Homo sapiens: one gene and its partner. The protein of the gene in region 1 purifies or fractionates together with the protein of each later gene. This does not show direct contact. Each region holds a gene or a part of one and is shown on either strand. Other genes may lie near its edges.

Region 1 (3,811 bases):
TGTTTTTTAAATGACCTTTAAAAAATTTCTAGCTTTCTGGGATGAGTCGTTTGACTCTGCCCTCTGCCTTTTTCCTCTTGCTAATTAACCTAATGTTTTTATTAACATCTTTAATATCTTTAAAGGGAAGCTGAGACAGCAAATCTGATAAGGCTTCTAGGACTGTTGTTCAGTTTTGCAAGAGTTAAGATGTCAACTAATAAATAAAATCAATACTGAGCCACAAACAAAAGAAAAGATGTTTTAAGTGGGGTCTTGTGAATTGCAATCAAGAAGTACAGATCTAGCAGTCAGCTAAATCATTTCCTGTTCTATCCAGGCAAGGTTGGGCAGGGGCTTATAAATGTTTACTGTAAGTTTACATATCTGGAAGGTATTAGTACAGTCCATGATTGATGTCAGTTGGTTAGCAACTTAGGATGTCTTTGGTTGATGATCAATCTAGTTCAGCATAGCTGTTTCCCCAAGAGTTTCGCAATCAGGCCATGTATAAACAATTCCAATCAAATGCAGCTGGTTTTACAATTTGGCCCAGTTAAACAGGTTAAAATCCATCTGGATGTGTACATAACTGAGGTCCAACTCCACATGCCTCTTTTTAGAAACTTCTGACATAACCATCTCCATTTTGAGTTTTCTTTTTACAAAAGTCACGTGGGGTATCCATGCGAAAGGGGCCCCCTTAGCCACAGCATTTACCATGACCTGGGTAAGAAGCATATTCAGCAGATGAATATCCCAGTCATCATAAATTCAGTCCCACGTGGCTTGCATGCGGTATATCAGCTGCATCATCTGGGGTATCCCACCGAGCATTTATAGGGTGAGTTGAGCAGTCCGCTTTTTCAGGGCAAGCAGACATTACCATGTCTTTTATCCAGTTGATCAGGCTGGCTGTTCCCTTGGGAACAATCTGTTAACATTGATAGTGAGATTCAGGCAATATGGTTAAATATTGAGTTTATTCAAACACAAAATTTTAAGATGTCCACCTGGGAGGACACGGACTTCAAAAGATTGGATAAGTGCTCTGAAGTGGAAAGGTTTGAGAGTCATTATGTAGGCAGGGTCTAGGAAGCTTAACAGGATGTCAGCATTTTCTATACAAGATTAATGCATAGTTATAGCAATTCGATAGCAGTGTTTCCTTTTATTGGGAAGAACGTATTTAACATTCTGCATTAGAGATGTAATAGTCAAAGGGGTCTTTTATCTCAGACAAAGAATCTTTTATCTTAGATGCTATCTGGTCTGAGCCAGGAACAAGAAAACAAAGAAGGAAGTTAAGAGGTCAAGCTCAGTGACTCAGTTTCCTTCGGGCCTAACAACTTTTAGAAGCCCAAAATAGATAAGACTATTGGGTTTTTGGTTGTTTTTTTTTTTTCACATCTCCTGTGTGTCTGCATCAGGTGTTTACCGTCTGTAATTGTTGCATCATGTATCACCATCTGTAATTGTTTCATAGTGAACTGTGGGTCCTACATAAACCCAAATATGCTCTTCAATGCAACATTTAAAACCAAAGATGCTGCTACTTAGTTTCTCTCACAATCCAGTTGAGTAAAGATTCCTTAAGAAGCTACAAAATAAACAATTCCTTCACACTGTACACTGTAGTTTCAGTTTCTTGGTTTTACCCTTCCCATACACTGATTGCCTTTTGGTAACCACAGGTCTTAGAGGTACTTACTGTTGTCCTGGTATATTTTTTCCCTTAGGGACAGCTTTGAGGCAAGTGGCTAAAGCTTAGATTCACTAAAATTCGAACTTGGTCAAGCATCAGAGTCCAACCCAGTCCTTTTAATTACATTTGATATAGTTTGGATGTTTGGTCCCTCCATATCTCCAGTGTTGGAGGTGGGGCCTAGTGGGAGGTGTTGGATCCTGGGGGTGGGTCCGTCATAAATGGCTTAGTGCTATCCCCTTGGTGATTAGTGAGTTCCTGCTCAGTTAGTTCATGTGAGATCTGGTTGTTTAAAAGAATTTGGGTCCTCCAATTTCTCTCTCTTGTTCCTGCTCTCACTTTGTGACATGCCTGCTCCTACTTCACCTTCTCCCATGAGTGAAAGCTCCCTGAGGCCTCACCAGAAGCTGAGCACATGCCAGCACCACATTTCCTTTACAGTCTGAATAAATGTAAGCCAGTGAAACCTCTTTTCTTTATAAATTACCCAGCCTCAGGTATTTTGTTACAGTGACACAGAAATGAACTAATACAGAAAATTGGTACTGAGGTGCAATGCATTGCTATAAAGATGCCTGAAAATGTGAAAGTGGCTCTGGAACTGGCTAATGGGCAGAGGTTGGAAAAAGTTTGGAGGGCTCAGAAGAAGATAAGAAGATGAGGGAAAACTTGGAACTTTTTTTTTTTTAACTTTTTCACTGAGCCATGGGAACTTCTTACAGACTGATTAAATAGCTGTGACCAAAATGCTGGTGGGAATATGGACAATGAAGTCCAGGCTGATGAGATCTCAGATGGAAATGAGGAAGTTATTGGGAACTGGAGTAAAGGTCACCCATGTTATGTCCTAGCAAAGAACTTTGCTGCTTTGTGTTCATGCCCTAGGGATTTCTGGAAGCTTGAACTTAAGAGTGATAACTTAGGGTACCTGGCAAAAGAAATTTCTGAGCAGCAAAGCATTCAAGAAGTGGCCTGGCTGCCTCACTGCTTCAAACAGCCTACAATTATATATGGGAGCAAAAAAATGACTTAAAGTTGGAATTTATATTTAAAAGGTAAGCAGAGTATAAAAGTTTGGAAAATTTGCAGCCTGGCCATTTAGTAGAGAAAGAAAAAGCATTTTTAGGAGAGGAATACATGTCGGCTGTGGAGCAACCACTCGCAAAAGAGATTTGCATGACTAACAGAAAGCCAAGTGGTAATATCTGAGACAATGGGAAAAAGACCTGGAAGACATTTCAGAAGTCTTCAGGAAAGTCCCTCCCATCACAGGCCTAGGGGCCTAGGAGAAAAGAATGGTTCCAAGGGCCAGGCCCAGGGACCCCCTGCCCTGAGCAGCCTCAAGACATTGTGCCCTGAATCCGGCCACTCTGGCTCCAGCCTCAGCTTAGAGTGCCCCAGGCGCAGGCTGGGTTGCAGCTCCAGAGGGTTCAAGCCTTGATAGTTGTGGTAGTTTCCACATTGTGTTAAGGCTGCAGATGCTCAGAATGCAAGCATGAAGGAGGCTTGGCAGCTTCTACCTAGATTTCAAAGGATGTATGAGAAAGCCTGGGATCCCAGTCAGAAGCCTGCCACAGTGGGGGAGCCCCAACAGAGAACCTCTACCAGGGCAGTGCCAAGGAGAAATGTGAGGGCTCCCCACAGAGTCCCCACTAGGGCACTACCTAATGGATCTGTGGTAAGGGGACCACTGCCCTCTGAGAAGTGGTCCTGAGACCACTGCTCAGTCATATCACTTGGCTGCCCAAGGCCTTGGGAGTCTATCTCTTATACCAGGATGTGGGACATGGAGTCAAGGATTATGTTGGAGCTTTAAGAGCCCTGGCTGGAGTACAGTAGCACAATCCTAACTTGCTGCAGCCTTTAACTCCTAGACTCAAGCTATCCTCCTGCCTCAGCCTCCCAAGTAGCTGGGATTACAGGCTCAAGCCACAGCACCTGCCTCTTCATATGCTCTTTACCCAAATTTTCCAATTATTTACATTTTGTATTTTGCTTTGTTAACACCCATCAGCCAAATACCACTGGGAACAAACTTATAATGAGAAACAACTTATTGTAGCTTTCTGCATCAAGGAACCCCACATAGCAAGGTGATCATGGAGTGTCTTGGTAAGAGGCATTTAG
Region 2 (3,811 bases), on another chromosome or scaffold:
ATGAGATAAACCATAAAGGTGAATTTGGGGAAATGTTTTTAAACAAACAAGCTACCACCACCCCAAAACTAGTGCCTTTCACGTAACGATTAACTTTGCTTGGTCGGAAACCAGCTCATCCAGAGACGCTGGAAGCCACTTCTCTAACGGGGCCAGTGGCGAATGTCCCAGCGGATAAACACACGTCCTGTGTCCTGGCCGCACACAGACACTCACGGTCCCTCTCACGACACGAGAGGACTTCAGCCAGCACATCTCTCACTTTCTTCTGAAGCGGTTACTTAGCTGGGCTTTAAATGAATCCTACACACTTATGCCAAACATCCCCCAGAAAAGACTCACACTGTGCTGGCTTCTGCGCAGGCGCCGGCCTGGCCTCACCTGGCTTCCGGCCGTCTCCCAACTCGAACCGCTCCCGCGGCGGCCGAGGCGGGCTGCGACTCCAGTGGCTGGCTTTCACTTTGTCGCTGTAGTCCTCTCTCATCGTTCGGTGATGTGCAGACACTGGCGCGCAGGGCAGAGAGGGAGATGGCACTAGCAGCACTGCCTTCCTCAAAAGGCCCCACCCGGCACAGCTGCCTCGTCTCCCACACCCGCACCTGGCAGACACACCCACAGCGTGCACAGGGTGCTGACAGCATCGGGGTCAGAGGCCAGAGGTCTCCCAGGAAGCCCAGGGAGAAAAAGCTCCAACCTGGAGGCCGTGAGCCCGAGGACCCAGGTGGACCTTCTAGACTGATCTTCACTGGTCAAAAAGGAAGGGGCGGGAGAAGATTCTGGAAAGATGGAGTAGGAAGCACTGGGAATCAGTCTCCCCACCGAGACAACACTTGCATCACAGGATCAGGCCTGTGCAACTACTGAGGTGCTCTGGAGTCTACTGAAGGTTTGCAACTTCAGGGGGAATCTTGGAGAGTAAACTGTGATTCATTAATCAACGTCACCGCTTCGCACATTAGTGGCTCCCACCTCACTCCCCGCTGGCAGGCAGCAGCCTGCATGCAGCTCGCCGGACCCAGGTGGGCAGACGGACACACACACCCGAGGTCAGTGTGATGACTGCGTGTCCCACCCCAGAGGCATGAAGAGGCAGCAGCCACGGCCACCCCCAAGCTGAAGGTACTTCCAGGGCATGAGCACCACGTCCCCCGTTGCCCCCTTCATTTCTCTCTATTCCCCCTTTAGGAGGCAGACACTTCAGGACAAGAACATTAAAAACATCTGTATTGACGGGAACGTTAAAAAGTGGCTGCACGTGACCAGGAAAAGGCTCAGGCTCAGAAAAGACCCGTGAAGACCCTGAGTTTCCACAACAGGCCGACCCCACAGACACAGCCCAGCACAACCAAAACAACAAGTGCACACCCTTGAGTGGGGACCAGGAAGAATCACATCATGAGAATCAAATGTCCATTTTTTTGACTAAGAAAAACACAAGAGAAACAAAGAAATAGGACAGTATGTCCCATTCAGAGGGGAAAAAAAGAAGCCAACAGACACGGTTCCTGAAAATCACCTGACGGTAGATGTCCCAAAGACTTTAGGGAACTGTCTTAACCTTCAGTTCCTCAGAGAACGAAAGGAAGATGTGGAGAAAGTCAAGAAAATGACGCGTGAACACGACGGAAATATCAACAGAGACAGAAGATCCAACAAGAAACCAGAGAGAAATTCCAGAGCTAATAAGTACATGCTCACAATAGACACTAAAAAGTAAATATTCACAACAGAAACTCACAGGCAGATGTGAGCAGGCAGAAGAAATAATCGGTGAGCCTGAAGACAATAAAATCACATCGTCTGAGGAAAAGAAAGCAGAAGAGACTGAAGAAAAGGGAGCAGTGCTGAGCGGCCTCGGGGACCCCAACAGATCTGTGGGAGCCCAGGAGGGAGGAGAGGAGCAGAGAGGGTATCTGAAGAATTCCTCAAAACCCCCACATTGGATGAAAACCGTAAATATAAACATTAGAGAGGCTCAGTGAACTCCAGGTAGAATGAAGTCAAGAGGCCCACAGGAAAACCCATTATTAAACAGTTGAAAGCCTAAGGCAAAGAGAATCTTCAAAGCATCCAAGGGATCCTCAATCAGGTCATCAGATTAAAGCATCCAAGGGATCCTCTATAAGATCATCAGATTTCTCATCAGAAACTTTGGAGGCCAGAAGACAATGGGCTGAAATAGTCCAAGTGAAAAGGAAAAACTGTCAGCTAGGCATGAGGGTTCCTTGAGCCCAGGAATTCAAGACCAGCCTGGGCAATACAGGGACACCTTGTTTCTACTGAAAAATGAGCCAGGTGTGGTGGCACACGCTACGCCTGTAGGTCCCAGCTACGCGGGAGGCTGAGGTGGGAAGATCACTTGTGCCCAGGAGTTCGAGGTTGCAGTGAGCTATGATCGCTCCACTGCACTCCAGCCTGGGCAACAGAAGAAGACTCTGTCTCAAAACAACAACAACAAAATTGTCAACCAAGAACCACGTATCCAGCAAACTTTCCTTCAAAGATGAGGGAGAAATGAGGATATTCTCAGATAAACAAAAGCAGAGGGAGTTCATTACTACTAGACCTAGACCTGCCTTGAAGAATAAGCTCCAGGGAGTTGTGTGGGGTGTAAGGAAAGGACGCGAGACAGAAACCGGAAGCTGGGTGAAGAAATAAAGATCTCCATTAAGGTGAGGACGTGGGTGACTATAAAAGCTCGTACTGGCCGGCCGCGGTGGCTCACGCCTGTAATCGCAGCACTTTGGGAGGCCGAGGTGGGTGGATCACGAGGCCAAGAGATCAAGAGACTATTCTGGCTAACACGGTGAAACCCTGTCTCTACTAAAAATATAAAAAAATAGCTGAACATGGTGGCGGGTGCCTGTAATCCCTGCTACTCCGGAGGCTGAGGCAGGAGGATCACTTGAACCCGGGAGGCAGAGGGTGCAGTGAGCCGAGATCGCGCCACCGCACTCCAGCCTGGGGGACAAGAGCAAAACTCTGCCTCCAAAAAAAAAAAAAAGGCAGGGGCGAAAAGCAAGCACCGGAACCAAGCGCCCGCCTGTGACAGCAAGTGCCCAGCACCAGGGGGCAGCAGACACGCGTCCCGCCGAGCACAGCTGCCCACCGCGCCGCCTACCTTCCCTGCGGGCCTCCCGCTCCTTGCGCCGCTCCTCTGCCCGCCGCTCGCGCTCCTTCTGCTCCCGCTGCTCCTTCTGCTGCTCCCGCATCTTGCGCTCCCGCTCCCGCTTCCTTTCTAACTGCTCCAAGCGGTCCCTGAAGAGGCACACGCCATCATTCCCCCTAAACAGAAGCTTGCTTATCGCGTTTTTGTCCACATTTGTAAACTGGCTTTCTACGTAATTCAATCCGTGAAGTTTTTTTTTCATTTTTTTATTTTATTTTCTTTGAGACGGAGTCTTCATCTGTCCCCCAGGCTGGAGTGCGGTGGCGCGATCTCGGCTCACTGCAACCTCCGCCTCCCGGGTTCGAGCGATTCTCCTGCCTCAGCCTCCCGAGTAGCTGGGATTACAGGCGTGCGCCCTGTACTCCCAGCTAATTTTTGTATTTTTAGTAGAGACGAGGGTTTCACCATGTTAGCCAGGATGGTCTCAATCTCCTGACCTCGTGATCCGCCTGCCTCCGCTTTTCAAAGTGCTGGGTTTACAGGCCCGAGCCACCGTGCCCAGCTGCCATTTCCAATTCTAATTAATAAATGATCCATTTCTTTCCATTCGATCGGTGTTTGCTTCATGGATTTTGGGCTCTGTGGTTAGATGCATTCACACGTATCATTGCTGTATCTTCCTGCTGTATTGGCCTGTTTCTG

What was found.
Region 2: the proteins of ZNF221 (region 1) and CDK11B purify together in Homo sapiens (affinity purification with mass spectrometry; one large-scale study listed by BioGRID and IntAct). This does not show direct contact.

Annotation. Positions count from the first base shown.
Region 1 is NC_000019.10:43,957,618-43,961,428, forward strand, and holds part of ZNF221 (zinc finger protein 221), read left to right. Parts: intron 1-2,569; exon of another isoform or gene 2,570-2,739; intron 2,740-2,758; exon of another isoform or gene 2,759-3,811. UniProt on the Homo sapiens protein: May be involved in transcriptional regulation.
Region 2 is NC_000001.11:1,642,005-1,645,815, forward strand, and holds part of CDK11B (cyclin-dependent kinase 11B), read right to left. Parts: intron 3,286-3,811; coding exon of another isoform or gene 3,259-3,285; coding exon 3,122-3,258; intron 505-3,121; coding exon 382-504; coding exon of another isoform or gene 343-381; intron 1-342. UniProt on the Homo sapiens protein: Plays multiple roles in cell cycle progression, cytokinesis and apoptosis. Involved in pre-mRNA splicing in a kinase activity-dependent manner. Isoform 7 may act as a negative regulator of normal cell cycle progression.